Homo sapiens: one gene and its partners. The protein of the gene in region 3 purifies or fractionates together with the protein of the main gene of each other region. This does not show direct contact. Each region holds a gene or a part of one and is shown on either strand. Other genes may lie near its edges.

Region 1 (2,881 bases), on a different chromosome or scaffold from region 3:
CAATGCAGTCCACTGCCTGTTTTTGTATGGTGGAAATTTTGTTTTTTCTCATTATATAATATCTTTGATTTGCCGTGGGCCCACAAGGCCTGCAATTTTTCTTACAGAAAAAGTTTGCTAACCCCTGATTTGGGAGATTGCAAAATAACCACTTTAATAAGCATTTTATAATACAAAGGTAACCCATCTTTCCTCAAACGTGAATCCCATGTTCTACCTCTAGAGACACAAACTGCTGTATCTTCATTTTATTTTATTTTTGAGACAGAGTCTCATTCCGTCATGCAGGCTGGAGGGCAGTGGTGCAATCTCAGCTCATTGCAACCTCTGCCTCCGGATTCAATCTATTCTTGTGCCTCAGCCTCCTGAGTAGCTGGAATTACAGGAGCGACACCACGCCTGGCTAATTTTTTGTATTTTTAGTAGAGACAGGTTTCACCATGTTGGCCAGGCTGGTCTCAAACTCCTGTGATCTGCTCACCTTGGTCCCCCAAAGTGCTGAGATTACAGGCGTAAGCCACCATGCTCGGCCACAAACTGCTGTCTCCTTAAAAGGGTAGTCTTTTTTTGTTTTTCTGAGGTGGCGTCTCACTTTATCCCCAAGGGTGGAGTGCAGTGGTGCCATCTCGGCTTGCTGCAACCTCCGCGATTCTCCTGCCTCAGCCTCCTGAGTAGCTGGGATTACAGGCGTGTACCATCATGCCTGACTAATTTTTGTATTTTTAGTAGAGATGGGGTTTCATCATATTGGCCAGGCTGGTCTTGAACTCCTGACCTCAAATGATCCACTTTCCTCGGCCTCCCAAAGTGTTGGGATTACAGGCATGAGCCACCATGCCCATCTGGGCAGTCTTAATTATTCAACATTGAACACAAACTGGGTTTAGATTATATGAAGAAACTATTACTAATATTTTGGGGGTGCGAAAATACTGCGGGTTTGTGTTAAGAAAATTCCCCATCAGAGATACAGACAGGAGATTTATGAGTGAACTGATGTGATATCTGCTCTAAAAATACAGCGGGAAAAAAATAGCATGTGTGATGAGATGCATGAAACAAAACGATGGAATTTGAACATTTTCCTAATAAAAAAGGCAGTCTCCCCATTCTTGCCAAAGAAAAACAGAAACAAATCCCGATGTATGTATGTATCTATCTGTATCTGTCTGTCGTTCTGTCTGTCTGTCTGTCTATCTAGGAAAGAGACAGAGAGATGGAAATACAGGTAGATCTATATATCTGTATCTCTATATCTATAGATCTATATCTATATCCACAGATCTATATCTATATCTGTATCTATATCCACCTGGTCCTGCCTCAGCCAGGACAGTCCGGTAGAGAGGAAGGCCTGCTTTGTCTTATTGGAAATGCCTGGGGCTACCAATCCAGACTGCCTGTGAACAGGGACACAGGGATAACCCACATGGTCAAGAACACTGACTAAGTGGACACACAGACTAAGTTGACAGCCTCAACCCCAAGAGGAGAGGCAGTGGATTTGGGGTAGGTCCCTCCTTACAGCCACACTGGAGGGAGTCGGCTCTTTAGTATCAAACCCATGGAAACACATGCGCAGGCCTTCCATGAATTAAAGAACCCCCTCCGGTAGTCAGAATTTCAATTAGTAAGAAGGTCATGTTCTAGTCACAGTCTTGAGGGATGGGAAATGGAATCTTCTTGTTTACATTAAAGTTATTTGCAAATTAGTTTTCATGGAAAACCTTGATGCTTACATTTTTCTGACTTTCCCATTTCTCTTATAGCTGCCCAGTCAGGAATACTTGATAGGACAATTTCTGTAATTATGAAGAATCAAACACCAACAAAGAAGGTTTGTATGCCTTGTAAGAATCACTGTCTCAATGATCATCTTCCATTCTGTGTAAAAGTAGTGTTTTCCCACAATTTTGCACTTTCTGTCTTTTCTTTTTTTCTGTTTTTCTTTTTTTTTTTTTTGAGATGCAGTTTGCTCTTGTTGCCCAGGCTGGAGTGCAATGGCACGATCTCAGCTCACCGCAACCTCCACCTCCTGGGTTCAAGCGATTCTCCTGCCTCAGCCTCCCGAATAGATGGAATTACAGGCATGTGCCACCACACCTGGCTAATTTTTTGTATTTTTAGTAGAGACAGGGTTTCTCCATGTTGGTCAGGCTGATCTCAAACTCCTGACCTCAGATGATCCACCCGCCTTGGCCTCCCAAACTGCTGGGATTACAGGTGTGAGCCACCGCGCCTGGCCCAGTTTTGCACTTTTTTAATTAGTGTCTCCAATATGGGCATTTCTGTTTTTGCCATTAGTACTATTTTTTTTGTAATATAATTTACATTTTTCACAGTACAAAAAGCTAGAATATACAGAAAAGAAAAAATATATAAGCACTCACAGCAAATAATAAATTCTATAGTGTTAATATAGTACCATGAAAAAAATCTACTTTCCAACTCAGTCTGATTTACAATTTTAGTATGATGGCTACACATCATGTCCACTGGTGACCGGCTACAACCGTGTGATTCTTGCTGAGTTTGACTACAAAGCAGAGCCGCTAGAAACCTTCCCCTTTGATCAAAGCAAAGAGCGCCTTTCCATGTATCTCATGAAAGCTGACCTGATGCCTTTCCTGTATTGGAATATGATGCTAAGGTAAGTGCACTGCCTGGTTCCTGGATGAGGAAAGGGATTTGTAGCACATCTCCACCCAAAGGGGATGCAGCCTCTTTTCTTCATTATTAGCAGTGACCAAGTGTTCTGTCTTCCATGCTCTAGGCCCTCTTTTGCTGCTGGATAAATAATAATAGTAAATCACTTTCACATACCAAGTACTCTATCATCTGCTACCTTACTTTTTTTTTTTTTTTTTTGAGACAGAGTCTT
Region 2 (4,005 bases), on a different chromosome or scaffold from region 3:
GCTCCCCCTGGTCTCCAAAATTCATCAGAAACTGAGTTCACTTGAAGGCCTCTTCCCCACCCTTTTCTCCACCCCTTGCATCTACTTCTAAAGCAGCTGTTCAACAGAAACAGAATGGGAGCCACACACATAATTCTACATTTTCTAGTTAAAAAGAAAAAAAAATCATTTTCAACAATATATTTATTCAACCTAGTACATACAAAATATTATCATTCCAACATGTAATCAGTATTTTAAAAATCAGTAATGAGACCAGGCACGGTGGCTCACGACTGTAATCCCAGGACTTTGGGAGGCCGAGGCGAGTGGATCATCTGAGATCAGGAGTTCAAGACCAGCCTGGCCAACATGGTGAAACCCCATCTCTACTAAAAACTAGCTCAGCATGGTGGTGGGTGCCTGTAGTCCCAGCTACTCGGGAGGCTGAGGCATGAGAATCACTTGAGCCCAGGAGGCAGAGGTTGCAGTGAGCCAAGATTTTGGGGGATTCTGTGACATACAAAAAAAATCAGTAATAAGATATCTTGCATACTCTTTTCGTACTCATATACTTCCAGCATATCTCAATTCACAATTTCTAAGTAAATGCTCTATCTGTATTTACTTTTATAAAATTCACAATTAAAAATGAAGGTTCACATAGTCAAGTTGTTCCAAACACACTTAAATGTCTCCTAGGCTGGGTGTGGTTGCTCACACCTGTAATCCCAGCACTTTGGGAGGCTGAGATGGGCGGATCACCTGAGGTCAGGAGTTTGAGACCAGCCTGGCCAACATGGTGAAACCCCGTCTCTACTAAAAATACAAAAATTAGCTGGATGTGGTGGCACTCACCTGTAATCCCAGCTACTCAGGAGGCTGAGGCAGGATAATTGCTTGAACCCGGGAGGTGGTGGAGGTTGCAGTGAGCCGAGATCGCACCACTGCCTTCCAACCTGGGCGACAGAGCGAGACTCCGTCTCAAAAAAAAAAAAAAGGCTCCTAATAACTTTATTACTTTATTATCACCTCAAATAATTAAAATTAAATGAAGTTGAAAATCCAGGTCCTCAGTCCCATTAGCCACATTTCTAGTGCTCAGTAGCCACGGGGGCTGGTGACCACCACATGGGACAGCATATTTAGTACCTGATCATTGGTTCTCAGATCTGGCTACTCAGCAGAACCAAGAATCCACAGAAACGGCTTTTAAAAGCACAGCCCCACAGCCCCCAGCCCCAGCCTTACCTACCTGGAGGCTGGGAAGGACTCTGATTCCACGAGGCAGCCTATGTTTTTTGATGGAGGGATGTGACAGGGGCTGCATCTTTAACGTTTCCTCTTAAATACTGGAGACAGCTTCGAGGAGGAGATAACTGGATGTGTCTTAGTCCATTTGATGGAGGGATGTGACGGGGCTGCGTCTTTAACGTTTCCTCTTAAATACCGGAGACAGCTTCGAGAAGGAGATAACTGGATGTTTCTTAGTCCATTTTCTGTTGCTTGTGACAGAATACCTGAAACTGGGCAATTTATATGGTAAAAAATTTTCTTCTTACTGCTCTGGAGGCTGAGAAGTCCAAAGTCAAGTCCCTTCTTGCTGGTGGGGACTTTGCAGAGTATTGAGGCGGCACCGGGCGTCATATGGTAAGGGGCTGAGTGTGCTACCTCAGGTGTCTTTTTCTTTTCTTATAAAGCCTAACTAGTTTCACTCCCATGATAACCCATTAATCTATGAATGGATTAATCCATTATTGAGGGAAGAACCTTCATGACCCAGTCACCGCTTAAAGGCCCCACCTCTCAATACTGCCACATCGGGAATTAAGTTTCAACATGAGTTTCGGAGGTGACAAACATTCAAACCATAGCATGCTGTCTCTTAAATGACTCAATAAGCTCCTGTGGCATCCACTTCTGCATGCCTTGGGCAGCTTTTAGACATCTGTCCATTTTCCTAGAGGGACAAGACCACCACCTGTGATCCTATGACCTTTTGGCTTTAGGCCTAACAAGCAGGTTATACCCTCACTCACTTTCAAATCATTTTTATTGTCTTGCAGACAATTTACACAAGTTTACACATAGAAAAGGATATGTAAATATTTATACGCTGCCGGGCGCGGTGGCTCACGCCTGTAATCCCAGCACTTTGGGAGGCCGAGGCAGGTGGATCACGAGTTCAGGAGATGGAGACCATCCTGGCTAATACGATGAAACCCCATCTCTACTAAAAATACAAAAAATTAGCCGGGCGTGGTGACGGGTGCCTGTAGTCCCCACTACTCGGGACGCTGAGGCAGGAGAATGGCGTGAACCCGGGAGGCAGAGCTTGCAGTGATCCGAGATCGTGCCACTGCACTCCAGCCTGGGTGACAGAGCGAGACTGCATCTCAAAGAAAAAAATAAATAAATAAATAAATATTTATACTGCTTATAAACTAATAATAAATGCTATGGTCTGCATGTTTGTGTCACCCCACCATTCATATGTTAAAACCTAATCACCAAAGTGATATTAGGAGGTGGGGCCCTTGGGAGGTGATGAGGTATGAGGGTGGAGCCCATATGATTGGGATTAGTGCCCTTCTAAAATAGCCCAACGGAGCCCAGTGACAAGGCATCATCTATGAACCAGGAAACTGGCCCTCACCAGACACCAAAGCTGTTGGTGCATTGATCTTGGATTTCCCACCCTCCAGGACTCTAAGAAACACATTTCTATTGTTTATAAGCCACCCAGTGGCTGGTATTTTGTTATAACATCCCAGACTAAGACAAATAACAAATACTTGTATCCCTGACACCAGGTTAAGAGATAGAATTTGTTTGTTCCTCTGGAGGCCCTTGTCTTCACCCCATCACTGCCCTGTCCTCCCTGGAGGAATCTGCCAGCCCGAATTCTGTTCATCGTACCCTCCTTTTCTTAGAGTTTGACCTCCTCTGTATCTCCCCCAATCCATGTATTGCTTATATACAAGGTATTCTGCTGTATCTGTTCTGCTATGGCTTGCCCCTTTTGTTCAACACTGTTTTTGTGCGTCATCTGCATTGATGCATGCAGTTGTCCTTTATTTGTTCTCACTGCTGGATAGTATCTGGTTGGGTAAATATATCACACTGTAAATCACACTATCCAGGTTCCTTTAGGTGACATTTGGTTGATTGCAGTGTTCTGTTGTTACGATGGTGCTGCTGTGACTGTTCTTGTGCATGGACAGAAGTTCCTTTCAGGTGAATTTCTCAGAATGGAATTGCTGGGCAAAGGGGCAGCCAATAATCAACTCATTTGATGCCAAAAGTGGTGGTGCCAGTTCATCCTCCCCTGCGAGGTATGGGTCCTGATTCACTCTTCAAGTGCTGTGGTTTGACAGGGCCGGGGGTGACAAGGGGACACCTGGGAAGGAAAGCTGGGCTCCCTGCTGGCCATCCAGGCCAGTCCTTACCAGGGGGTAGGCAATGATTGGGTCAAGTGGTTCCTGACCACTGGGCCTGAGACTTCAGGCCCAGAAACTATCTAATATTTCCTCAAATGCATCCCATGAGCAGGCACTGTGTGAGTGAGCACACACATCTGAAGCCTCAAGCTAGGCAAGCCTACCATGACTTGTGGTCCAAGGGCTCACGGGTGACCTGGAGTTAGAGGGAGACATGGCTGCCAGGTGGCTTTAGAAAGAACACTCATCATGGCCAGGTGCGGTGGCTTACGCCTGTAATCCCAGCACTTTGGGAGGCCAAGGTGGGTGGATCATGAGGTCAGGAGTGAGACCAGCCTGACCAACATGCTGAAACCTGTCTCTCCTAAAAACACAAAAATTAGCTGGGCATGGAGGTGCACGCCTGTAATCCCAGCTACTCAGGAGGCTGAGGCAGGAGAATCACTTGAACCCGGGAGGCGGAGGTTGCAATAAGCCTAGATTGTGCCACTGCATTCCAGCCTGGGCAACAGAGCAAGACTCCGTCTCAGAAAAAAAAAAAAAAAGGAAGAACACTCATCCTATGACCTTGACCTCCAAGCTTTGC
Region 3 (5,558 bases):
GCCAGTGGGTCGGTCCAGGGGTCCTCGGTAGAAGTTGTTAGTTGAGCTCATTTGGGTTTCCGTTTGTAAGACCATCTGTAGTTTGATGGCCTTGATTCTAGAGGAAACAAATTTGACAAGGAGGTTAAAAATACAGGGCCCGAAGGCGAGTAATAGTAAAACGGCTGTCACAGGATGTAGAAAGGGGAGAAGCCATGTTGCCCAACTCCAGAGGTTGGTATAAGAGTTTGAAAGGCGTTGTCTGATTTCAGAAACCTTTTCCTGTAAATGCCGGGCGGCATCTTGCACTATCCCTGACTTGTTAGTGTAAAAACAACACTCTTCCCCTAAGGTGCAAAGTCCTCCTTTCTCAGCAGTGAGGAGGTCTAGGCCTCGGGGGTTTTGGAGAGTCACTGCTGCCAGAGTCTATTTGGGATTGTAGTTACTATCCTTACTGAATAGATTTTGTTATTTCTTGCAAACTGTCTGAGAAATACTTTGAGAGTGTGTGGTAGTAAGATAATGAAGTAGATAAACTGGCTATTCCGGTTCCTGTAGCAGTGGCCATTTCTAGCCCTATAAGTAGGGGTATCAGTTGTATGGCCCTGTGCTGATGGACTTGAGCTTTGAGGGGCACTGATAGGGTCTGATGTCCATAAGATTAGAAGTTAGGATAATATGTGTTACACTGTTAACTTTTAGCAAACTTTACTTTTGTTGAAAACCTTAAGTTTGGGATTTCAATTATTCTTTGCTATTAATAAGACCTCGTTCAGTCCATATTCACTTAAAATTGGTATAGATGGCTCCTTCCTGATTCTGTAAGTACTTTAAGGTTTGGCTGAGTGCAAACAGCTTGCACATTTGAGCAGACCAATTATTAGGCAATTTTCCTAACTCTGCTTCTGTAAGAGTTTCCTTATCACGTACTGAGTACCCATTGTGTCTTTTTCCTTAATCGCCCAGGAGGAAACATCTATCATCCTGTCCTGAAGGGGGTTCCTCCTATGTCTGGTCAGACCTTCAGATTTAGATCCCCTGTTAGGAACCTGCTGGGTTAAGGATTTTTGATAGGAAGGCTACAGGTTGTCAGTGGCCTCAGTGCTTTTGGGCTATGCCCTTGTTTACACTGACAACAAGGTGGTATTGGAGTGTTACAGGGTTACAGAGAAGACCTTCAATTATCAATTGTAGGTTTTATTTTTCATTTTTATTTTTTTGGAGATGGAGTCTTGCCCTGTCACCCAGGCTGGAGTGCAGTGGCATGATCTAGGCTCACCGCAACCTCTGCTTCCCGGGTTCAAGCAATTCTCCTGCCTCAGCCTCTGGAGTAGCTGGAATTACAGGCGCCCGCCACCACACCTGGCTAATTTTTGTATTTTTAGTAGAGACGGGGTTTCACCATGTTGGCCAAGTTGGTCTCAAACTCCTGACCTCATGATCTGCCCGCCTTGGCCTCCCAAAGTGCTGGGATTACAGGCATGAATTATATATTTTAAATTTACCCTGGCTTTTAAAGGAATAGGGTGCACTGTTTTTTCTTTACTACTTCTATCTCTTTCTCTCTGACTCCTTTGTCTCTTCCTCTCTTTCCTTCTGTCTTTGACTTTGCCTCTTTCTCTCTGCTGGTCTTTCCCTGCCTCTGCCAGCCGCTTATGCTGCCGTTCTCCCTTCTCCTTCCCCTTTTTGATGGCTTCGGCAGTGTAAGACTGCCACCTCCTTGGGTTTTTGCATTGAGTGCAATAACTCCATGATTTCCTTGTGGTATTTAATGGGGGTTCCCCCAGAGGTTAGGAACGCTCTTTCTTTACATATTGCAGCATGGGCATGTAGGATTAGATAAGCATACTTGCTATCTGTATACACGTTTTTTCTTTTTTCCTTTCCCAGTTCTAAGGCTCGGGTAAGTGCCACTAGTTCTGCTAACTGGGTGCTGGTCCCTGGGGGAAGAGGTTTACTTTCAAGTACGGTTACATCACTAACTGTGGCATAACCTGCCCTTCGTATCCCATTTTCCACAAATGAACTTCCATCGGTATATAGGTTAAGGTCAGGATTAGCTAACGGGACTTCTAAGAGATCCTTTCAGGCGGCATAAGTCTGGACTACTACCTGTTGGCAGCCATGCTTGACCCGCTCCCTATCCTCTGGGAGAAAAGTGGCAGGGCTGAGGGCCACACATGTATGCACTTGAAGCACTGGTCACTCAAGGAGTAGTGCCTGGTATCTAAGCAGGTGGTTTTCTGATAGCCATAAACTTCCTTTGGCACCTAGTTTGCCATTTACATCATGAGTAGTCCAGACAGTGAGATCCTTTCCTTGTATTATTTTGATAGCCTCTGACACTAAGACAGCCACTGCCACAACTACCCCTAAACAGTTAGTCTAGCCTTTTGCTACTGTATCAGTTTCCTTAGGTATGCCACTGGTTGTGGAGTTGTCCCATGAGTCTGAGTAAGGACCCCAAGAGCTATTCCTGCTCTCTCTGTGACGTTTAAAGAAAAGTTTCGTCCTGTGGGAAGGCTTAAGGCTAGAGCTTGAGTTTGTTCCTTCCAATGCCCAGACTTCAGGGTTGATTCCCTCCCCAAGCAGGGGACAACAAATGGGTAACTTGTTCCCCATATTCATGTAGATAATAGCTCCAGCTTTGGCTAATATATCCCTCCCTAATAAGGGTGTGGGACTTTCAGGCATAACAAGAAAGGCATGTGAAAGGAGCAAAGTCTCCCAATTACAACTGAGGAGGTGGGAGAAATACCTGGTTACAGCCTGTCCCAGGATTCCTCGGATGGTAACAGACCTTGAGGACAGCTCCAAGACAGGAAATTAACACTGAGAAAGCCACGCCAGTGTCCAGGAGGAAGTCAATTTCCTGGCCCTCAATGGTTATACATACCCAGGACTCAGTGAGAGTGATGACATGAGCTGGTGCTTTCCCTGGGCACCCTCAGTCTTGTTGCATCATCTGGTTGGTGGCTTCTGTCCCAGAGAACCTTTGTCCTCTGGGGCAGTGTGTCTTCCAGTGATTGCCTCGGCATAGTGGACATGGGCGAGGGGGCAGCTTGTTTCTCATAGGACAATCTTTTTTTTAAAAAGTGTCCTTGTAAACCACACTGATAACAAGCCCTACCAGGTGATTGGCCTGCTCCATTCTCTGTCCCCTCTGAACCACCAAGGTTTGTTTGTCTGAGGGCCATGACTAAGTCTGCGGCCTTTCTATTATCTCACTTTTACTTTTGGGCCTGTCCATCTTGGTCCCTATTATAGAACACTGAGGTTGCCAGGTTTAATAATGCTTCCAGAGTTTGTTCAGGGCCCAGGGCTCGCTTTTGGAGCTTTCTCCTGATATCCACAGATGATTGGGTAATAAACTTGTCTTTTAGGATCAATTGACCCTCAAGTGAGTCGGGTGACAGGGGAGTGTATTTTCTTAAGGCCTCCCGTAGCTGCTCGTGGAAGGCAGAAGCATTTTCTTCCTTTCCCTGAGTTATGGTGGACATCATTGAATAATTCATGGGCTTTTTCCTAATACTCCTTAGTCCTTCTAGAACACAAGTCAGCAGATGTTTACGACTCCAGTCCCCATGATCTGAGTCGAGGTCCCAGTGGGGATCCATACTGACTTACTGACATACGGCTTGCTGACTAGTAAGGAATTTGTCCCTTTCTTCAACTGTCATTCTATCATTTACTGGACTAAGATACCAGGTATCTCCAAACTCTTGGGCTGCAGCTAAAGCCACATTCTTTTCATTAAAGGCCAGGGTTTGATCTAACACTAGCATGACATCTCTCCAAGTGAGATAGAAGGTTTGCCCTCGACCCTGTAGGACATCTGTATACCTATCAAGATCATCTGAAAGCTTCCCAAGGTCTGCCTTGATCTGCTTAAAATCAGAGAGGGAGAAGGGAACATGTACCTAGGTTGGGCCAAATTCCGCTCCCCCTACAGCTTGAAGGGGACATAACCGATAGCCCGGGAAGGGGGCGTTTGTGATCCTTTGGAGATTTCTTTGCTTATTTCCTTCTGGGCAGCGGACATTAGAGGAGGATTATCATTAATAGGAAGGGGAGCTATAGGGAGGCTAGGATATGGAGGTAAGCTGAGAGGTCCTCCTGTGGGATGTAAATTGCAAGCTTTGCATACTTGGGTATTCTCCTTCAATGAAAAGAAAACTTAGACATAAGGTATTTCACTCCATTTGCCTTCCCTCTTACAGAAAAGGTCAGGCTGCAGGATAGTACTGTAGTTTATACTTCCCTCAGGTGGCCATTTTTCCCCATCAGAGAGAGAAATTGGGGCCAGGCTGTAGTATAGAAAAAAATGAGCCACCTCTTTTTCAGGGTTTGTGGGTCAAATTGGTCCCAGTGGCTTAGGATGCATTTCAAGGGTGAGCCTGTTGATGCCTGAGTGTTTCCCATCTGAAAGACAAAACCGCCTGTGGTTTTGGTTTGTTTGTTTCTCCCCCTGCCCAAGAACCTGCAACGGTCCCTGGACCCTGCTGATCGGAATAGTTGTGCTCACCAATGCAGCAGCAGAAACACCTCTTGCCCAAGAACCTGCAACAGTCCCCGGACCCTGCTGATTGGAGTAGTTGTGCTCACCAACGCAGCAGCAGAAACAACCCCTGCCCAAGAACCCGCAACAGTCCCTGGACCCTGCTGATCAGAATGGTTGTGCTCACTGACACAGCAGCAGAAACACTAGTTCTCCTAGACCACAAGGAGGAATGAGGAAGGTCAGATTTCGTGGCCCTTACCAACACATTCTCGAAAACCTGCGCCCTTTCCTGTCCTCCTAGACCTCAAAGAGGACTGAGAAAAATCAGATTTAGTGGCCCTTACTGATGCATTCTTGGAAAACTGTTGGAGTCCTAAGCATTCTCCTGTTAGTATTGGGACCTTACCCATGTCCTATAAAGATGTTATGCCCCCAAAATGAAGTGGAGGGCCATACCCTGAGGGAGGGAAGGGATCTCCAGAGTTGGAAGAGTGAAGCCTTTTATCCCCAGTTATATGAATAGGAAGGATACAATTTCTGAGGCTCCCGATATCCTAGTTTCAGGAATAGCTTTTGTTAGGCCTGCTTTTCTGAGGAGGGATTCTAAAATTCCAGATAATCCCCCCTACGATGGGGCTTTGAGCAAAAACTGTGTCTTTCTGATTGGTGAGCCCGGGTGTCTAAAGAAGGTAACAGAGTCCTGAAGTTTATCCTAGAAATCATTCTTACAGGAGAAACTAGAAAAGCACCAGAGATGGAGTGGTTTTTAGAAGTGGGACTAGCCTCAAAGAAAGGCGAGAGGAAGTTTGTCTGACAGGCATTAGGACCCAGGAGGCAAGGGTCAGGATAGATAGGATAGATGGGTGAGTCTCGCCTGTGCGACGTGACTTTCAGAGTTCCATTCATGGCTGCAGGGTCAACCAACTTGTTGTCGGGACCCCGGAGCTGAATGGCTTTCCTCGCTGTCGACCCTCGGCTCAGCCCAGAAGTACAGGAAAAGCAGAAGCTGGTTCCAGGCAAACCAACGCTCCCCACTCCGAAGAGTCGGGGGTTGTTAGCCCTTTCCCAGAAAGCCTGA
Region 4 (4,659 bases), on a different chromosome or scaffold from region 3:
TATACGTTGGATGTATAGTTTGTACATCTACTGAATGATAGGAGTAAATTCTTAAAATGTAAAGATTAGTATTAAGTAATAACTATGATGTTACCTGAATTATCTTCAGTAGAGTTTACAACTCATTTTAACAGTCTAATTCTTCTATCCATTCAACCCAATGCTTAAGAATAGCTATTTATGTTGCTTAGAAACTAAAGCAACATAAAAGGGGGGTAAAACAAGTTTTGAACATGCTCACTATGCTGGACACAATTTAGGACAATTTAAGTGTCTATTATTTAATACTCCCAGAGCTTTCTTATATTGCTTTCTATCTCACTGATAAAGATAGCAATTGAGAGAATAATAAGAAATCTTAGAAAATCACCCAGGCGATAAGAAAAACCATAACATGATTATTGTTCTCTGTGATTCTATAGCACATGTCAAATCACACTGATCTCAGCTGAAGCTCAAAAAAGTAAAGGGACTTTCAGGTCATAAATTGGAACACAGCCAAAATGAAAAGTGATCATCATTCCTTGATTTTGATTTCAGTTTTAGTATGTGAGTATGTGTGAATAAATTTGAACCCAGAAGCAAAATTCACCCACAACTACTCATCCAGTCATAGAATTGTCATCTCCACACAATCACAATAAATACATGTGCACACAAGCTCATCATAGACACAGTACCTTTGAAGTGTAGAATATGTCTTCTCTCTTCACACTGCCATCTGCAATCTTGCTTCGGATGGCCAGTCCAACCTGCTCCTCATTATTGTATAAATGAGCAGAATCTATATGGCGGAACCCAGCTTCTATTGCTAATTTTGTGACCTCCAAAGCTTTACTTCTCGGAACCTGGAGGAGCAACCAAAGGTAGTATCTGGTGATCACTGTGGCTGAGAGGTAGTTCAGGCACAAGCATTGACTTTTATACAAGAATCAGCTTTTCCTCCTGTCTGTATGTGGGGTGAAAAGTCCATCTCAGTTTGCCTGAGTCTTTCCTGGTTAGTAATAAAGGTTGAGCATCCCAGAAACACCTTCAGTCTCAGGCAATCTCTGGTTGATCACTGTTATGGAGGTACCAAATAACACCCTCAGATTCAGTGATTTGTTGGAAAAGTTAACATGACTGAAATAGTCCTAATTATTTTTAATATAGTGATATTATACATGGTAAAAATCACATGGAGTATAGAAGGGAAACGGTGCAAGCTCATATGAGTTCTCTCCCAGTGATATTACACAGAATGCTCACTCAGACTTCCTCCAACATCGTATTTGGGAAATGCTGTCTACAAGAGATGTTCTTTGGTGTCTCAGTTCTTGAGATTTTGACTGGATGCTAGTTACATCGACCCAACTAGGGTTCACTTGGGAAATAAAGCATCTGTGAATAGTAGTCTATTAAGTCTTTTCTGCATAGTCATTCTGGCTACACAACAGAACTGAACACTAGGGGTAAAGATGTATACTCTGAGGATATCGATTTGTACATTAAAAATTCACTGAAATCTGTTAAGAATTTACTAAGGTACAGTTCTGCCATAAAAAATAAGGCTATCTCTTTCAGGAAAGACAGAATTCCAGTGAAATTTAAAATTACTGACTTATTGACCAAATTTGGATAAAGATTTGAAAGGTATTTTTTAATGACAAAAATATAAATAAACTGTTTTCATTTTTACATGTATTTAAAGAAGCTTTCTTGTTTCGTTGAAATTACAAGGAACTAGATAACGGTCTCCCCGCCATCTCCTGAGAACAGTCTTTTTTTTTTTTTTTAAATCTTTTTTGAGAGCAGTCTTTAAGTGTGCCAACACTCAAAGGTTTACCAAGGCTGGAGCTTCAGTTGTGTCGTTATTTTCATTTCCTGCCCATGCCAATTTATATTAAAAATTAAACCACTTTTGTCACTGGTCTAGAAAATGTATCCTTGTAGATCATCACAACTTATCGATAAAGTGAGAGACTCAAATTTCAATAATTAGTTCCTATTCACACACTTAGTAGCCTGAGGACAGTCTTGGAATACAAGTTCTATCTAGAAAATGAGGTCTCCATTTTGTTCATTTTTGTGTCAGAAGACCACTCCTACCACTTTGATACAAATATGATGCATACAAAAAAGGACTAAGAATTTAGACTTTCCTTTGTTAGGTTCTAGATTTTACTTAAAATGAGGTGGTATTTTTTTCTTTCAGGAAGTTCTTTTTAAAAGTGAAATAGTACAGTGGAAACTCTAGTCCAGGTCCGGTAATACTGGGTGGCACTCACTGCCGCCCATCAGAACAGTGATACTCTGCCGACAGTTTTGTGCACACCATATCCAGTAATTTTTGCTATAAGTATTTCTCTGGATCGTATGTTCTTGGAAGATGGAAAGATTTCTTCAGTTGTAGAAACAGAGAAATCACTCCTATTGCAATTAATCTCCACCAGAGGGAGATGACCAACAGTGTTCTTCAATACTGAGTTTTACATATTCTGCCAAGCTGGGAACTAGACATGAACAGAAGAAAGAAACAGTGCACAAACGAAAAATAAGCAGTACGTGACCATAGGAATGGACCTCAATGCAGAACAAGGATTGCCTACTTTTTTCTCCTAGCCTAGGAAACCTAGACCAGTGAGTCATCCAGAGTAAGGTAGGAACACGAACCTTACAACCCAATACGGGTTTCACTTCTACTAGGTTTATTCTTTTGAAATCCGAAAACTAAAAGGAATTATTCTTACCTCTGGAGGTGCATAGGTGCCAAATCCCAATACAGGCATGAAGTGGCCATCATTTAGCTTTACACACTGGTGTTTGGAATCCATTCCCTGTCACTTGTCTGACTAGCAAATGTTTGCTGCTGCTTCTCCTCAGAGATTACAAAAACAATGGGCAGGAAACCCCTCCCCCCACCCCTGCAAACTGACTGATGGTTAACCAATGGCATGTAGGAGGAGGTACATAGGCAGTCTTATATGGTCTGTGGAGAAAATTGCATTCAGTTCATTTGTTTCTTATCAAAGAGAATTCCTAAGTAAATTATTATAATATATGGTTATAATAAACTCATTAATTTCTATCTAAAGTATTATTTTCTATTCTAAATCTCTATATTAAATTATTCAAAAGGATTTGTAGAACAAATAGCAACCATATGTTAGACTATAAAAACCTCCAGCTACAAATATCTTTTTTCGTTTCTGCCGTGATAATGCCCCTTCTTTATACTGCATCATTTGAAATAATTAACCATCTTACGTCTTTCTCTCACATACACATAATTTAAAGGAATGACTAATGAGAATTTTTCAAATAGTTGGTCCTCAATAAAAAATTAAAGTTAAAACTGTAAAAATATTTGCCTTTTTACATTTTCAATCAGAAAATTTATTTTGATTTTTCTTTCTTTGCGTTGTAAGAGAAATATTCATTTCTGAAGAAGATGCAGTCCTGATAAAGCTGTAATCCTGATGAGGGTGCAAATAAAAAGAAATTCTGGTGTAGTTTTTATTGGAGTGTTAATTATTAACAGTTTTTGGAGTTTGGACATCATTTAATATATGCAAGCAGTGCCTTAATAGTATTTGTTCTTCAACCAGGTTTATTACAGACTATCAAGAAGTAACTAGCCAAAAAACTGATAACCATTTTATATAATCTGTCATCTTGTTAAACATTATTTGTAAGGAAAAACTGGAAATTAATTACATATAAATGGATGAATAATTCTCATGTGGGATAGTTTTCACTTGTTCCTTCCTTTGGAGGGCAGATTAGAACATGATGAATGTAGTTTGCACAATACATTATCAACATCTTGGAGTTGTCAGAACTTGCAATGCCCTGATTTCGTTCTATTTACTTTTCCTCAAATAATAACCAAAAAGTAAGTTGAGAAATAAGTTAATTATTATACATTGATACAATATAATATAAAATCATTGAAAGCTTTTACAGAGTGATTTCAGCAATATGGTGGATCAAAAGGCCCCTACTTGTCTCATGGACGCGTCAAGAAGTGATCTGAAATTGACTAAAATAAACTTATTTATTTATGGGGGTGCTGAGTAGAAATGTAGTATGATGCCAAGGGCAAGAGATTAGGGGAAGAGACGTGCAATAGTCCGTCTAACCCATTGAGGGGAAGCTGGGGTGTGAATTTTTGAAATAGTAAGCTATTCAAAAGCCAGTAGGTATTTGGGGGAACTACTAATGGGCACACACAGTCCAGGCAGATACAAGTTCAGAAAATTGCTGACAAGGCCTTAGGGTTTTATGTTGGGCTTATGCTAAGACTAAGAACATACCAAGCATATTAGTTGATAATCGTCATGACACAGAACAAATCTATATAGAGTTAGAAAAATGTCTATATTTTGAAATGCTCAAATAAAATAATAAGGTATATAAAGAAACAGGAAAACACAGTCCCTTATAAGAAAGAAAACGAGTTGACAGAAATTATTTTTGAAGAACCATGAGCACTGAAATTAGTAGAGAAAGGTTTTAAAACAATTATCTTAAATATGCTAAAATTTCCAATTAAAAATATGGAAATAGAACTACAGGAAATTGGGAAAAGCATATACGGAAAAATGAGTGTATCAACAATGATGTAGAAATTATACAAAATAAACCAAACAAATTTTGGAGCTGAACGATATAACTGAA

The links. Proteins that work in one complex are often made in the same cells at the same time.
Region 1: the proteins of NUDT19 (region 3) and SQOR fractionate together in Homo sapiens (co-fractionation; one large-scale study listed by BioGRID). This does not show direct contact.
Region 2: the proteins of NUDT19 (region 3) and FXN fractionate together in Homo sapiens (co-fractionation; one large-scale study listed by BioGRID). This does not show direct contact.
Region 4: the proteins of NUDT19 (region 3) and AKR1C3 fractionate together in Homo sapiens (co-fractionation; one large-scale study listed by BioGRID). This does not show direct contact.

The regions. Positions count from the first base shown.
Region 1 is NC_000015.10:45,686,568-45,689,448, forward strand, and holds part of SQOR (sulfide:quinone oxidoreductase, mitochondrial), read left to right. Parts: intron 1-1,769; coding exon 1,770-1,837; intron 1,838-2,471; coding exon 2,472-2,650; intron 2,651-2,881. UniProt on the Homo sapiens protein: Catalyzes the oxidation of hydrogen sulfide with the help of a quinone, such as ubiquinone-10, giving rise to thiosulfate and ultimately to sulfane (molecular sulfur) atoms.
Region 2 is NC_000009.12:69,038,291-69,042,295, forward strand, and holds part of FXN (frataxin, mitochondrial isoform 1 preproprotein), read left to right. Parts: intron 1-4,005.
Region 3 is NC_000019.10:32,693,998-32,699,555, forward strand, and holds part of NUDT19 (acyl-coenzyme A diphosphatase NUDT19 precursor), read left to right. Parts: exon of another isoform or gene 1-97; intron 98-5,558. UniProt on the Homo sapiens protein: Fatty acyl-coenzyme A (CoA) diphosphatase that hydrolyzes fatty acyl-CoA to yield acyl-4'-phosphopantetheine and adenosine 3',5'-bisphosphate.
Region 4 is NC_000010.11:5,092,599-5,097,257, reverse strand, and holds the start of AKR1C3 (aldo-keto reductase family 1 member C3), read right to left. Parts: upstream 2,845-4,659; 5' UTR 2,814-2,844; coding exon 2,730-2,813; intron 849-2,729; coding exon 681-848; intron 1-680. UniProt on the Homo sapiens protein: Cytosolic aldo-keto reductase that catalyzes the NADH and NADPH-dependent reduction of ketosteroids to hydroxysteroids.